Linked DNA regions of Homo sapiens: region 1 is linked to region 2. The links come from fine-mapping of genetic effects on gene expression. Tissue or cell type: cerebellar hemisphere. Region 2 holds a variant in brackets; the other region holds the start of a gene. All regions are shown on one strand. Distances are between the middles of the regions.

Evidence for each region. PIP is the estimated chance that this variant, and not a neighbour inherited with it, causes the effect.
Region 1: EIF2D starts here. The variant in region 2 is fine-mapped to the expression of EIF2D in cerebellar hemisphere (GTEx, PIP 0.92).

Annotation. Positions count from the first base shown.
Region 1 is chr1:206,609,075-206,617,157 of GRCh38, forward strand. It overlaps EIF2D (eukaryotic translation initiation factor 2D), which reads right to left and starts at 3,391. Exons shown (of 15, transcript NM_006893.3): 1 at 3,213-3,391; 2 at 2,110-2,300; 3 at 302-385. The coding sequence starts at 3,268. RefSeq lists enhancers at 474-573, 614-673, 3,084-3,153 and a silencer at 3,444-3,653.
Region 2 is chr1:206,582,884-206,590,986 of GRCh38, forward strand. It overlaps RASSF5 (Ras association domain family member 5), which reads left to right. Exons shown (of 6, transcript NM_182663.4): 3 at 386-496; 4 at 1,504-1,801; 5 at 2,297-2,412; 6 at 3,943-6,565. The coding sequence ends at 4,095. It also overlaps a transcript of EIF2D not described here. Among named protein-coding and RNA genes, the nearest start is that of EIF2D, 26 kb to the right of the region's middle. RefSeq lists an enhancer at 5,216-5,716. The variant G/A (reference allele first, on the strand shown) is at 3,760.

The DNA of each region.
Region 1 (8,083 bases), 26 kb after region 2:
TTGAGTAGCCTATAACATGATCTGTCTTGTCCTAGTTTCCTAAATTCAGCTTATTGATTTACAGTATAGCACATGGTGGTTCATAAAATACTTTCACAACACTTATTTAAGCCTTACAACAGGGCCAGAGGGGCCCAGAGATCTTGTGTGGAACCAGCCAAGTGAGAAACATAAAACACATAGGGGAAAAAATTCCATTTTTCAACCACAAAAACACAGGAAATGGGTAAGTTTATTACATCAGTTGGCTTTTGCTAAGTAGGTTTCAGCCAATAGCCAGAATATAGGAGAATCCTCTTACCTGCTCCCCCTACCAGTTTCTCGAGCACCAGAGGCCATGTTGTAAAGGTTGGCAGAAGATCAGGATAGGACCACAGCGTGTACACTGTACAAAAAGAGATCCAGAAAACACTACTACCAAAAAGCCAATCTTCTAGAGAAATGGAAAAACCTAACACTATGGTCACTTTAATTAGAATACAGGAAAGAAACTCAACTCAAAGCTAAAGAGAAGGTTGTAAGGGGATGCCCAGAGAGGTTTCATTTTTGAGGAAGGAAAAAACCTAAGAAACTGAGTGTCACTTGAGATTTGGAGGCATCCGGATTGCAGCAGCAGAAAATGGTCACAGTGGACAAAAAAGTGAGGGCAGAGAACCAATGAAGCTTTTATTTACGGCTTCAGAAGCAAGTAGCCTAAGAACAGGAAGCCAGCTGTATAAAATTTGGAAACTTTCCCATGTTTATCATTTTTATCCCCTCTGTTTCCATAGTGATTAGCAGCAAAAACCCCTAGGTCAAAAAGCATTGTGGTTGTCTTCAGGTACAGCAAGGAAGTGAGATCAGGGGCAGGAGTGGCCTAAGGATATTGCATTGCACTATTGCAGACAACCCTGGAGGATGAAAAGCCCCAAGTTACAAAGTAGGTGTCAGCAGCTATGGAAAAGAGAAAAGGAGACTGAGTCCCTGAGATTTGTGACAGAGAAGGCAAAGAATCCTAGAGAGCCACTCATAGCCTAAAAAATCCCTGTGAGACCTATGGTTAAAGTACACCATGAAAACAGCTGGATATGTAGCTTATCAATCCAGCTTTATTCCTATCACAGTATATCTTTTCAGTATTTTAGGAAAATCCTGCTACAGATAGTTTTAAGAAACATTTTTTAGGCTGGGCACCCTGCTCATGCCTGTAATCCCAACACTTCGGGAGACTGAGGCAGGAAAATCACTTGAGCTCAAGAGTTCAAGACCAGCCCGAGCAACATAGTGAGACCTTGTCTCTACCAAAAATTTTAAACGTAGCCAGACATGGTGGCATATGCCTGTAGTCCCAGCTACACAGGAGGCTGAGGTGGGAGGATCCCTTAAGCACAGGAGGTTGAGGTTACAGTTAGCTACGATCACACCACTGCACTTCAGCCTGGGTGACAGAGTAAGACCTTGTCTCTAAAAAATATATATATTTTTGGCCAGGCGCGGTGGCTCACGTCTGTAATTCCAGCACTTTGGGAGGCCGAGGCGGGCGGATCATGAGGTCAGGAGATCAAGATCATCCTGGCTAACATGGTGAAATCCCGTCTCTACTAAAAAATGCAAAAAATTAGCAAGGTGTGGTGGCGGGTGCCTGTAGTTCCTGCTACTCGGGAGGCTGAGGCAAGAGAATGGTGTGAACCCAGGAGGCGGAGCTTGCAGTGAGCTGAGATTGCGCCACTGCACTCCAGCCTGGGCAACAGAGCAAGACTCTGTCTCATGAAGACATGCCCTGAAATTCCATCCTTTTCAAGACCTCTGCTCTATTCCTAGTCAACCCACTGTAAACTTCTCAGCCACTGTTCCTTCATCTCAGAACTTCCCTTTGCAACCACCCTTACTTACTATGTCAGCCCTTTTTTTAATCCCTCCTATAGTGGTTTTGCATAAGAGAAAACCTTTTGCATCCTAGAATTGAAAGACCCAATTCTAGGAACACCAGGTCCATAAAGATCCTTGGGGATGGTATTGGGAGATTTCGTGCTTGCTTATTTTATGGGAGACAATGGAAGAAACAGAGAGAAGCAGATGTTAGGCAAGAACTACCTAATGGTAATGGCCATCTTCGTCCTGTTGTCATACCTGTTGGATACAGATTTTTCTCCAGTTCAAAGAGGATGGGGTTACCACCACTCACGTACACAGTCACTGCATCCCCTTTGTGAGCATACAACTTCACAATGTTGAGCTCCTCCTTTCCAGGTACTAACTCAGAGACTTGATCAGTTCCAAGGGTGGGGAAAGCAGTTGTCACATCAGCTCGAAGCTTTCTCCTGTGGAAAGCACACCAGCACTGTGAATGCTGCCTGGACAGACTTTTAATAAATATCAAGAACGAACTCAAAAGTGCTCACTATAAAATCACAAGGGCCAAAGAAAGATTGCCTGGTTTATGATGTCCTAGTCTCACACACACTCTTCTGAAACATCCTAAACTCTTTTTCATCCATTGTCATCTATTTTCACTCATTCCTGGGGTATGCCTTCCCATTTTATGGGTGGGAAAACAGGCCCAGTGAACAATCCAAGTTAGCCTGACACAGGAAACAGCCCTGCCTTCCTGACTTCATGCCTAGCCCTTGGGCCCACTCCTTTCTCATACATGCTTCGCAAATATGCCAGTTTATGATTAAATAACTATGCCATGAGACCTATAGACAACTATAAAGCACTGGTTACAAAATTCCAAACACAATCTCCATTTGTGACCCTGTCTGAACAGATACAGTTCTTCTTACCACATGTGCCTTATTCCCTCCCACCTCAGTTTCCAGCTGTCTCTCCTGCCAGAATTAATCACTAGTCATTTTTTTCTCTTATACTTTTAATTCTTGGTATCCCATCCGATCTCTCCCAAGGGGCATTAAGCTCTTTGGAGGGCAAGAATTCTGTATTCCTTCACTTCTGCATTCTCCACAACACCTTAAATAGTCTGCAGTCAGTAAACTCTGACTTAACTACGTTTTCTTTTAAACTCACTAGACTATCCAAAAGAGAGCCAGGTCCCCCTCCATCCTCACCTCAAAATGTGTCTAACCCACCCTTGCCTCCTGGGGTCCCTTCCCTGGCATACCCCTCGGCCTCCACCCGAGGATGTCGGCCAAGAATAGCGAGGGCTATGGGCCAGCGGGGCCCAAGAGGTGTCTGGTTGTTCCGTGGCAGAGCAGGCCCCTTTCCTCCCTCACCTGTCCGACCCCTTGATGGCCGTGTTGGACTTGACCCGAAAGGCCTTGGCAAACATGTCTGCTGGGGTGGCCTGGGGAAGAGAGCACAGAAGCCAGGGAATGTCAAGAAAGCGAGGGCGCAGCAGCTGCCAGGCCCTCAGCCGTGGGGGCAGCCATGCTGGGGCCCGGCCGCGAAAAGGGCCCGGCTGGAAACCAGGGCCGCGCAGCTTCGTGGCCGTTGCCGCTGGGGAGGCCGCGGCCGCCCCCAGTGGCGGTACCTGGAACTAAAGCAGGGCAGGGAGGGGCAGGGCCCAGGGAACGCCCCTCCCCCCCACCTTCCCATCCCCTCGCGGGCCTGGCTCTGCGCCTGCGCGAGCGGCTCGGGTTCCCCGTCCGTAGCGACTCGGCCACGCCAATAGCTGTTCTGTTTATTTCCTTCCACCCCATCAACCTTAGGAACTGCTTTGAGTAGAAGCTCTCTGCAAGCTCCCATTCCATTCGGTTCGGTTCAATTCCGCAAAAATAATTGAACTGATAAACAGTTCAGGCTTCGGCCGGGCGCGGTGGCCCAAGCCTGTTATCCCAGACTTTGGGAGGCCGAGGCGGGCGGACCGCTTAAGCCCAGAAGTTCGAGACCAGCCTGGGCAACATGGCGAAACCCCATCTCCATAAAAAATACAAAATAAAAAAAAAAAAAAAAAAAAAAAAAAAGAAAGAAAGAAAGAAAGAAAAAGAATTGGGAGGCCGAGGTGGGCGGATCACCTGAGGTCGGGAGTTCGAGACCAGCCTGATCAACATGGAGAAACCCTGTCTGTACTAAAAATACAAAATTAGCCGGGCATGGTGGAGCATGCCTGTAATCCCAGCTACTCGGGAGGCTGAGGCAGGAGAATTGCTTGAACCCGGGAGGCAGAGGTTGTGGTGAGCCGAGATTGCACAATTGCACTCCAGCCTGGGCAACAAGAGTGAAAGTCCGTCTCAAAAAAAAAAAAAAAAGAAAAGAAAAAAGAAAAATTCAGCCGGGTGTGGTGGCGCATGCCTGGGGAGGCTAAGGCGGTAGGATCGCTTGAGCCCAGGAGGCAGAGGTTGCCGTGAGCCGAGATTGTGCCACTGCACCCCACCTTGGACAACAGAGTAAGACTCCGTATCAAAAAAATCAAACAAACAAACAAAAAAACCTCGAGGGCTTTTTGAATATTTTTCTTTATTTTATTTTATTTTGTTTACTTGGAGACAGGGTCTCGCTGTGTCACCCAGGCTGGAGTGCAGTGGCGCAATCTCAGCTCAATGCAGCCTCCACCTCCCGGGCTCAAGCGATCCATCCGCTTCAGCCTCCCGAGTAGCTGGGACTACAGGCGGGCACCACCACACCAGGCTAATTTTTGTATTTTTTGTAGAGACAGGATCTCACCTTGTTGCCCAGGCTGGTCTCAAACTCCTGAGGTCAAGAGATCTGTCCGCCTCGGCCTCCCAAAGTGGTGGGATTACAGGACAGGTGTGAACCACCAAGTCGGGCCTAAATGTTTTTCTTAAAGGCATTCTATGATTAAGGTCTATTCATTGTACTATAAGCTAGAAGCCTCAGCTAGAATTTTCTGTAAGATTTTTCTCATCCCGGATTTTTAGTTTACTTGGGTGGTAATAACAGTAATAGAGAATTCACTGTTGTCCCAGATTTGTCCCAAAGTCACACAGGCAGGGAAGAGAAATTAGGTTTTCCTCAAAGGGACAGCTGTGTTCCCTGGAGACAAGGATTTAAACACCCGGAATCCTGGCTCTTCGTAAATTAAGTCTTGCATATTAAAATTACATTAAGCAATTTAAGTAATAAAAGTAAATTATGTTTTGCATATTAAAACTTCCAAGTGTCCATTCACCAATAAAAAATCCCAATTGATTCAGTGACGCAGTTGCACAAAGGAGAATTCCACACTGGCTTTCTAAACATTAGGCCTTCTACAATGTTTGCCCACCACCTATAGTGGCCTAGGGACCAGCCCCAACTCCTCCTAAACCTGTGACCCACTAGGCCTTTATTCTGAAGTATCCCAGCCACCAGGCCAATGTCAAAGGAGCCCAGAGGAGGACAGTGCCTACAACAGACCCCTGTACCCACCCTTCACCTCCCACTTAGCCACTCTTCGGATGTGCAATACATTTGGGGTCTTTTGCAGCACAGCTGCTGAGGAAGCCTCTTTCTTAGGGAACAGAGGAAAGCTATTCAGAGAATACTAAACATTTTAAGCTAGGGGAACTTTTGTATACCAGATGTCCTTGGATAAGAAAACATCAATTGTAAACCTAAAAATTAATTAGTGGTTGACAAGTAGGAGCCAAGACCCCAGAGGATTCTGCACCATGGCATCCAGCCTCCTCTTTGGTAGAGCAAGAGCCCCCTTCCCCAGTGGGCACAATCCCACCTTCTCTGCTTGCATCACAGACCTGCCTGCTCCCTGCTGGCTGACCCTATTGCAGGGAAAGCAGCCTGAACCTTAAGTTCAGCAAGCCCTGATTCCTGTGCCTTCCATCAGCAGCTCCAGAGCCACCCCACAGGGCTCCCAGACTGTTCCCCACTGGTGGGTCTGAGCTGCCAAGTTGCAGCAAGGCACAGGGCAACTATACCAAGAAAGCTGCCATTTACTGAGAAAAAGGATCGTTTTCACTAATTATACTTGATAGCAACTGGCTGTAAATTGGATTCTTTACAAGAGTACCAAGTATTTGGAAGCAAGGGTAGGCCAGATGAGAGATTCCATTTTCCTTAGACTTCCTTTTTCTTCTCTTCCCAGTGAGTCCTAATGGAGAAAATTTAGTTTAATTCATTGAAACTTAACTGGAAGCTTTCTAATCAGGCTCTGTGATTTTTAAGACAAATTCGACACAAGCACTCTGCCCTCAAGGAACTCACAGTCTAACAAGTGGTATTTATGTCCTCTTGAAGTCTATAGGACCACAGGGTACCCAAACTGATAATTCATCCATGGCTACCTACTAGTTACTCCTTCACTAGCCTTCTCTTCCCTTCTACTGAAGCCCACACGCAAATCCCCTGAAAATATGGATCATTGGCATCTACATTTCAAATGTGACCAATGGTTTGAGAATTCTTTGATGGATCTGGATGGCTTTTCAGATGAGCAAGTGTGTTCACAGCCTCAGAAAGAGTCATGTTATCTTCACCCATATACAGATGATTCAGGGATACGGGATTTTTACTTTTTCAAATGTGTCCATGCCCATTGCCTCATGTTACCTTCATACCAATGCTGTAAGCAGTTATTGTTAACCCCTTTGCCAGGTGAGAAACCTGGAGTACAGAGATGTTAACTAACTTGTCCAGGCTCACACAGTTACCTTGCATGATTTAGTCTGTGGATGATGCTTTCCAACCACTAGGAAAAAATGGATGCAATAAATGATGTCAGGACAAATGCCTATCCATTTAGGAGGAAAGTTTACCTCATATTTTCATAAAAAGAAATTCCAGATAAAGATCTAAATGTAAAACAAAACAAAACAAAAACTACCACAAAACTAAGCATGCTTTTACCATATAATCCAGCAATCACTCTCCTTGGAATTTATATAAATGAGTTGAAAATGTATATCCACACAAAAACCTACACATAGTCATTTATAGTAGCTTTACCCAGAATTGACAAGACATGGAAGCAAACAAGATGTTCTTTGGTAGGTGAATGGATAAATAAACTGTGGTACATGCAGATGATGAAATATTCTTCACCACTAACAAGAAATGAGCTATCAAGCCATTAAAAGACATGCAGGAGCCAGGCGCAGTGGCTCACGCCTGTAATCCCAGCACTTTGGGAGGCCAAGGTGGGCAGATCACTTGAGGTCAGGAGTTCGAGACCAGCCTAGCCAACGTGGTGAAACCCCATCTCTACTAAAAAATACAAAAATCAGCCACACGTGGTGGTGGGCACCTGTAATCCCAGCTACTTGGGAGGGTGAGGCACGAGAATTGCTTGAACCCAGAGGTGGAGGTTGCAGTGAGCTGAGATTGTGCCACTGCACTCTAGCCTGGGCGATAGAGTGAGACTCAGTCTGAAAGAAAGGAGAGAGAAGAGAGAAGTGAGAGAGAACATGAAGGAATCTTAAATGTGTATTATTATATTAAGTGAAAGAAGCCAATCTGAAAAAGATCATACTGATAGTATGTAAGTGATGGTTCCAACTATATAACATTCTGGAAAAGGCAAAACTTTGGAGATAATAAAGAGATCTGTGGGGGAGGGAAAGATGAACAGGTAGAGCACATGTTGGGAGAAAAGCTGAGTGTTGGGAGAGCAGCTGAGGCAGGGCTTCCATGTCTGCTAGACTTGCTGGCTCCTTGCTTCTAGCACACCCATTATTTCAAGCAGCCATTCACTTGATACACTGTTTCCTGTCAACCCCCACATCTTCACCACCTGTTTGTTTGTTTGAGCACCAATAAGCAGCCATGGACGCCCAGAAATCGGGGCCTTGGCAGCCTCCACACTCACGATGGTCCCCTGGTCCCACTTTCTCTCTCAAACTGTCTTTTTCTCATTCTTTTGACTCTGCTGGACTTCGTCGCCCCCACGACCTGGTGTTGGGTCTGATCACCCCAACAACATTCTGGAAAAGGCAAAACTATGGAGATAGTAAAGAGATCCGTGGGGGAGGGAAAGATGAACAGGTAGAGCACAGAGGATTTTAGGGCAGTGAAATGCTTCTGTATGACACTACAGTAGTGGGTACATGTCATTATACATTTGTCCAGACCCACAGAATGTACGACACCTAATGAACCATAATGTAAACTATGAACTTGCAGTGATAATGATATGTCAATATAGGCTCATTGATTATAATACGCAAATAAATAAGCCTTGATTCATAACTCA
Region 2 (8,103 bases):
ATCAAAGAAGCATCTTTTCCATAGCAGCTTTCCATAAGCAAATGCGGCTCTGCTCATTCACCAGATTCATAGTCAGTGCCTGAGTGCCAGACGCTTTCACACTAATCTCAAGACAAGCCTGTGCAGTAGGTATTGTTCCCATTTCACAGATGAGGAGACTGAGGCTTAGAGAAATCTGAGTTACTTCTCCAGGAGGGCTGGCTAGACACTGGCACAGCTGCAATTTGACCTCTCATTGTCTCACTCCGAGTCCGTGCAGTTAGTTCCACTCTGCAGGGCTGGATGCTCACTTCTTGGTTAGAGAGGCTTTGGGGAGGGCGTGGTTGTTCCCTTTCTCACCCTGAGAACTACTACACATCCACCTCCACTTCTGTGTCTCTTCCAGAATGTCTGTAAACCTGTGGAGGAGACACAGCGCCCGCCCACACTGCAGGAGATCAAGCAGAAGATCGACAGCTACAACACGCGAGAGAAGAACTGCCTGGGCATGAAACTGGTAAGCGCCCGTCCACCCTCAACCTGGCCCCTGCTCCACCACCCGCTTCGGGTTTGGCGCCTCTGCCCTCACTCTGAATTCTGTGGCTACTCCCTGGCAGGTCCCCTCCCTTTCCTCCGGCCTCCAGAGGCCTCCGGGGTCTGGAAGGCTGATAGCCAGAGCCCTCAGTGGCCTCCATGTGCTTTAGGGAAATAGATCTGACTCTCATTTTTTGCTTGTGATTTTGGGAAGCTCTTTTAACTCCTCCTCTGAGCTTCAGTGTAAACTAAGTGATTAAACGGTACGTAATGACCAAGGGCCCAGTATTGCTTGGCCTCCAGGGAGCCAGGACAATGGGACTTAGTTGCTCCCCTTCCTACCCCTTCGATTGTGAGAGAGGGACATACTCTCTCAGAGAGGGGAGGGCACCCAACTTAGCACCCAGTTGGGAAAGGCTGTCTTCAATAGGGAGGGGAGAAGGTAGAAAAACACTGCCCCCTGCTGGTGGCTGGCATCAGCTGGCTCTTTGGGGTTCAGCCAGATGGAGCACCAGAAAATCCAGTCACAAATGCACCTAGGTTTAAGTCTTAAAGGCTGTTTCTTAGTAAAGAGATACAGGAGGAAATCTAGTGGGCTGGTTCTCCAAGGCCCTCATTATAGAGCCTTCCTGCTTCCTGCCTGGTTCAGAGGTACAAACTAGAGTGGCTACCCCACACCCTGCCTCTTACAATGGGCACTCACCAAAGGCAACTGGTTACAGGAGGTTTAGGGAGCTGGCCTGAGCCTCCTGGGAGGGAAATCCACTGCAGCCCCACAGGTCCTCTTTGGTAGCTGGATCCTGAGGGTCTTCTCCCAGCCCACTATGGGGAAAGGGATCTCTGCTCCTTCCTCCAGCTCTCCCACGTCAGCAGAGGCAGGAAAGAACTCAAGGAGACAGGTGGGTGCTGCTGGGGCAATGGCCCCGAGTGGCAGATATGATCATGCAAGGCGGACGGCCCTGACCCCCTGTGACATGCCCCCGCTGGCAGAGTGAAGACGGCACCTACACGGGTTTCATCAAAGTGCATCTGAAACTCCGGCGGCCTGTGACGGTGCCTGCTGGGATCCGGCCCCAGTCCATCTATGATGCCATCAAGGAGGTGAACCTGGCGGCTACCACGGACAAGCGGACATCCTTCTACCTGCCCCTAGATGCCATCAAGCAGCTGCACATCAGCAGCACCACCACCGTCAGTGAGGTCATCCAGGGGCTGCTCAAGAAGTTCATGGTTGTGGACAATCCCCAGAAGTTTGCACTTTTTAAGCGGATACACAAGGACGGACAAGGTAGGAGAAAGAGTGAACCCAACCAGACCGTTCCCTTCCTACCTGTGTCCAAGCCCACCCACTAAAACTCCTGCCGGCCTTGGGTGGGAGCTGTGGGCTTCTCCTGAGCACCAGGGGTCCAGCTGCCCATGTGGTGTTCAGATCTGTGGAATCCGGGCAGGGAGGCAAGAGCAGAGTCCCTGACTCTGCATGTGACTTCAGGAAAACCACACCCTAGGCTCCCATTTCCTGATCTGTGCAATGGGAGGAATCTGCCCCACCATTCCTAATCTTTCAGGAGATGATGTGAATGGAATCATGCTTTAAACTCTGAGCAGACACCCAAGATAAAAGGTTATTGCCCTGTTCATTACTGTCATGTTCATTTCATTAAAAGGCCCGTGTCTACTTCCAGTTGTACGTACCCCACCTCTGCATTTCCAATCCTTTCCCGCAAGCCTGGGCCCCGCCCTTCTTTTCTGGGAAGAGCTCCCAGCACCCTCTCTTGGTTTGCAGTGCTCTTCCAGAAACTCTCCATTGCTGACCGCCCCCTCTACCTGCGCCTGCTTGCTGGGCCTGACACGGAGGTCCTCAGCTTTGTGCTAAAGGAGAATGAAACTGGAGAGGTAGAGGTAGGTCTGGACCCATTGTGCAAACCCAGGCCTTAGGGCACCCTGGGTGGGTGCAGGTGGGTGTTGTCCTAACTACCTCACATAGGTGGGAGCCACGCAGCACGGGCAGGAAGGTGACTGTTGAGAGAGTGAGCAGGGGTGGGTGATGGGCCTGGGGGTCAGTGTTTCAGCCAGGACTCTGAACACCCTGGGGTAGCACATTAGGGCCTGTGTGTGGCAAGGCCTGTGGAAAGAAAGGATTTCATGTGCTTTATTTCTGAAAACTCAGGGAGGAGGGGGACCAAGAAACTCCCTGTGCTCAGGCACAGGCTGTTTTTGCTTCAAAATGGCCCGAGGGCTACCAAGCTCCATCTCTGGGCTCCACTGGGTATAGACGTTTTTGAGCCATTTGTCCTCCCTTTTCTTGACCTCCATCCCCCAAGGGGAGCTAACCAGTGTGTAGTCTTGTGGCATAAACTGGAGTAAAACCAGGCCGGTGCCACCCATGGCCTGAGAATGACCAACAGGGGAAGGTCTCAGTGTTTGTCACACTGTGTTCAGTGGAGGCCTAGAGTTTTAAGGAGTTTTGGGAGTCACTGCGGAGATTTAGGGATCAAGGCAGCTGGGACTCTGTCCCTTCTCCCCATTTCAGCAAGGGCCGCTCTGCTCCCATCTGCTTTCTTTATTGGCATCTGTGCAGAATATGTTTGGAAAAAGTACTCCATGGACAGTAGCTGAATGCTGCTGGCCCTGTGGAAAGCTCAGGCACTTTGAAGTGTGGAGACCTGGGCTCTAGTTCCAGTTCTGCTGCAATGAGCTCTGTGATTGTGATTACGCCACCTTCCCTGTGTGGACTTGAGGTTTCTCACTTATCCATAGCGAGGACCAAACCAGATAAACCTTAGTACTCTATTGTGCTCAAAGAGCTTAGGAGTCTCAATTGTTGGCCGCACAGGGCTTGTGCTCTTGGGTCAGCCTGATGGAAGTCCAAATTGCCTTCTGCCATCAGAGGCCAAGTCCTTTAGGGGTAGGCCTGGGCCAGTCAGGCTCTCATTATCTGCTCTGCCAGTCATGGGAGGTAGATACCCCAATTTCCCAGCAGATAACAGGCTGAGAAGGGTGGAAAGCTGTGCTCGAGGTCACACTGCTGGGAGAGGTGGAGTCAGGCCCAACCCCGGTCTCCTGAGTCCACGTTCCACTCCTCCACCTGCTTTCTGAGGGTCTGCATGTTGGGAGGCTGGGTGGTTCCAGCATCACTGTCAAGATCTCGGCTGCTACACAGAAACTTAAGATTATTGAGTTTCAAAATAAAAACATGGTTCATAGACTGGCAACTCTTGGTCATGAGATGCCAGCATTTGGAATTTT[G/A]TTGCTGCTATGACAGGCATGCAAAGCCCAGGCTTCGCTGATTCAGTCTGTTCAGTAGCAAACTGTGTGTGAATCACGGATGTGAACTGGGAAGGGGAAGGCAGCAGGGTCTCTCAGGTCGTGTCAACTTCTAACCTGTCTCCTATTCTGTTTCTTCCCACAAATCTCCCTCTCGCCTCACAGTGGGATGCCTTCTCCATCCCTGAACTTCAGAACTTCCTAACAATCCTGGAAAAAGAGGAGCAGGACAAAATCCAACAAGTGCAAAAGAAGTATGACAAGTTTAGGCAGAAACTGGAGGAGGCCTTAAGAGAATCCCAGGGCAAACCTGGGTAACCGGTCCTGCTTCCTCTCCTCCTGGTGCATTCAGATTTATTTGTATTATTAATTATTATTTTGCAACAGACACTTTTTCTCAGGACATCTCTGGCAGGTGCATTTGTGCCTGCCCAGCAGTTCCAGCTGTGGCAAAAGTCTCTTCCATGGACAAGTGTTTGCACGAGGGTTCAGCTGTGCCCGCCCCCAGGCTGTGCCCCACCACAGATTCTGCCAAGGATCAGAACTCATGTGAAACAAACAGCTGACGTCCTCTCTCGATCTGCAAGCCTTTCACCAACCAAATAGTTGCCTCTCTCGTCACCAAACTGGAACCTCACACCAGCCGGCAAAGGAAGGAAGAAAGGTTTTAGAGCTGTGTGTTCTTTCTCTGGCATTGATTCCTCTTTGAGTTCTCTTACTTGCCACGTACAGGACCATTATTTATGAGTGAAAAGTTGTAGCACATTCCTTTTGCAGGTCTGAGCTAAGCCCCTGAAAGCAGGGTAATGCTCATAAAAGGACTGTTCCCGCGGCCCCAAGGTGCCTGTTGTTCACACTTAAGGGAAGTTTATAAAGCTACTGGCCCCAGATGCTCAGGGTAAGGAGCACCAAAGCTGAGGCTGGCTCAGAGATCTCCAGAGAAGCTGCAGCCTGCCCTGGCCCTGGCTCTGGCCCTGGCCCACATTGCACATGGAAACCCAAAGGCATATATCTGCGTATGTGTGGTACTTAGTCACATCTTTGTCAACAAACTGTTCGTTTTTAAGTTACAAATTTGAATTTAATGTTGTCATCATCGTCATGTGTTTCCCCAAAGGGAAGCCAGTCATTGACCATTTAAAAAGTCTCCTGCTAAGTATGGAAATCAGACAGTAAGAGAAAGCCAAAAAGCAATGCAGAGAAAGGTGTCCAAGCTGTCTTCAGCCTTCCCCAGCTAAAGAGCAGAGGAGGGCCTGGGCTACTTGGGTTCCCCATCGGCCTCCAGCACTGCCTCCCTCCTCCCACTGCGACTCTGGGATCTCCAGGTGCTGCCCAAGGAGTTGCCTTGATTACAGAGAGGGGAGCCTCCAATTCGGCCAACTTGGAGTCCTTTCTGTTTTGAAGCATGGGCCAGACCCGGCACTGCGCTCGGAGAGCCGGTGGGCCTGGCCTCCCCGTCGACCTCAGTGCCTTTTTGTTTTCAGAGAGAAATAGGAGTAGGGCGAGTTTGCCTGAAGCTCTGCTGCTGGCTTCTCCTGCCAGGAAGTGAACAATGGCGGCGGTGTGGGAGACAAGGCCAGGAGAGCCCGCGTTCAGTATGGGTTGAGGGTCACAGACCTCCCTCCCATCTGGGTGCCTGAGTTTTGACTCCAATCAGTGATACCAGACCACATTGACAGGGAGGATCAAATTCCTGACTTACATTTGCACTGGCTTCTTGTTTAGGCTGAATCCTAAAATAAATTAGTCAAAAAATTCCAACAAGTAGCCAGGACTGCAGAGACACTCCAGTGCAGAGGGAGAAGGACTTGTAATTTTCAAAGCAGGGCTGGTTTTCCAACCCAGCCTCTGAGAAACCATTTCTTTGCTATCCTCTGCCTTCCCAAGTCCCTCTTGGGTCGGTTCAAGCCCAAGCTTGTTCGTGTAGCTTCAGAAGTTCCCTCTCTGACCCAGGCTGAGTCCATACTGCCCCTGATCCCAGAAGGAATGCTGACCCCTCGTCGTATGAACTGTGCATAGTCTCCAGAGCTTCAAAGGCAACACAAGCTCGCAACTCTAAGATTTTTTTAAACCACAAAAACCCTGGTTAGCCATCTCATGCTCAGCCTTATCACTTCCCTCCCTTTAGAAACTCTCTCCCTGCTGTATATTAAAGGGAGCAGGTGGAGAGTCATTTTCCTTCGTCCTGCATGTCTCTAACATTAATAGAAGGCATGGCTCCTGCTGCAACCGCTGTGAATGCTGCTGAGAACCTCCCTCTATGGGGATGGCTATTTTATTTTTGAGAAGGAAAAAAAAAGTCATGTATATATACACATAAAGGCATATAGCTATATATAAAGAGATAAGGGTGTTTATGAAATGAGAAAATTATTGGACAATTCAGACTTTACTAAAGCACAGTTAGACCCAAGGCCTATGCTGAGGTCTAAACCTCTGAAAAAAGTATAGTATCGAGTACCCGTTCCCTCCCAGAGGTGGGAGTAACTGCTGGTAGTGCCTTCTTTGGTTGTGTTGCTCAGTGTGTAAGTGTTTGTTTCCAGGATATTTTCTTTTTAAATGTCTTTCTTATATGGGTTTTAAAAAAAAGTAATAAAAGCCTGTTGCAAAAATGACTCATGTTAGAAACGTCTCCCTTGAACTTCACCATCTTACGGACACTGGGAGCGGGGGAGAGAGGGTGAGAATGGACATGATCACATGCTTCCTGGTGGAGTCAGATTTTCTTTTGCCAGTGAGCAGAGAAATGAAGGCTACTGTTCAAATAATTTGGGAAAAATTGTCCAAATGCGTAGGCGGGAGGGCGCTGCCTGGGTGACCAGCTGTTCCATGTCTCCGCAGTGCAAGAGAGTCAAGGAGACTGATTGCAGGCAGAGATGCTGATGTGTGGGAAAGAGAAGGGCCTTCTGGAGCTAAGGGTGATTTGACACCAGGACAGGCTACTGAGCTGAGCCATGATTCTTCTACTTCTGGAATTATTTAAAAATAAGGTAGAAAGGAATAGATCTTTAAAAGTTTAAGATCACTTCACCTGGAGGAAGGGGGCTAGATCAAATGACCAAAACAAACAGTCCTTTCACTTGAGTTCTCTGACTTTCATCAAAGGAACATCTCAGTAATCATGGAAATAACCACATTAAATTATTAAAAAGAAATTCTTGCTGCCTTCCAGTATTGATCACATAGAATGCAATACATGGGGCCCAAAGAATGAATGAATGTCCAACAAGCATCCTTAAAACTGCCCAAGAATGGGGCACATCTGTAACATTTTTGTTCATCTAAACCCCCAAGAAATGTATCTTTCAATGATTTTGCCAAAGTCCAAAAATGAAGCACTTTCTGCTTTTCATTGAATCTCATATGGTTACAGCATAGGGTTAATAAATTCAAAGTTGTACGTTTGACATTGATACAGATTATTTGACTTAGCACATAGGAAAAAGAACCTGTTACACAGTCTGGCTCTACTCTGCCTTTGAATATGTCCCTATGCTGTTCACAGGGGGAGAGGGAAGATGACTCAATGCAAATGTGTCACCGTTACTGGAAAAACCACTCAATGCACAGGTCTGGACAGCACTGTGTCATGGCAGAATTGTGGGTCAAACCACAATTAAGGGTAGATGTTCATTTTAGACCCAGCCCTACCACTTACTGGCTTTGTGTCTTCAGCAGAGATCAACAAGGCGGGACATGACCTTTCTTAGCCTCCACTCCCTTCAAGATCGTGCAAAACAAATCAAGTTTGTGAAAGAACTTTGCACAGTGCTATATTTTACTTGTATTCACATAAGGAACCATAGTTCATTACTACTATACAGATCATAATCCCTCAGATCAGACTCTGGCAGGCCAAAGGCTTTAACAGGATCCTGTTTAGGCTCAATTTCTGGAAATCCCTTTCCTAGTTTCATATGCTCATGCCGGTAGAGATAGGATTAGTGAAATTAAGGAGTTTACTCATGAGTAAAAAGGTCTATTCTGGGCCTGATAACAGACGGTAGGAGGCGCCACACACACATTTTCAAACCCATTCCTTTTTTCCTTTTCAAGCCTCAAACGGGCAATTTGTGGATATTGTGGATATTTTTAAGCCTTTCTTATCTCAGTTTGAGAAAAACTGAGAAGAGAAAGAAACAAGTAAACTGAAGTGCAACTGTCTCTTAATGGTAAAACCCAAAAACTCAGGGAATTTAGCCCAGTTCTCCCTCCTATTATACAAGGAGAGATCCAGTCAGTGAAATGATTCCATAAACTGAGCAGGGACCAGCGCAGTGGTTCTGCACTTTTCTGGCATCAAGTGATCCCTTTGGGAATTTGATG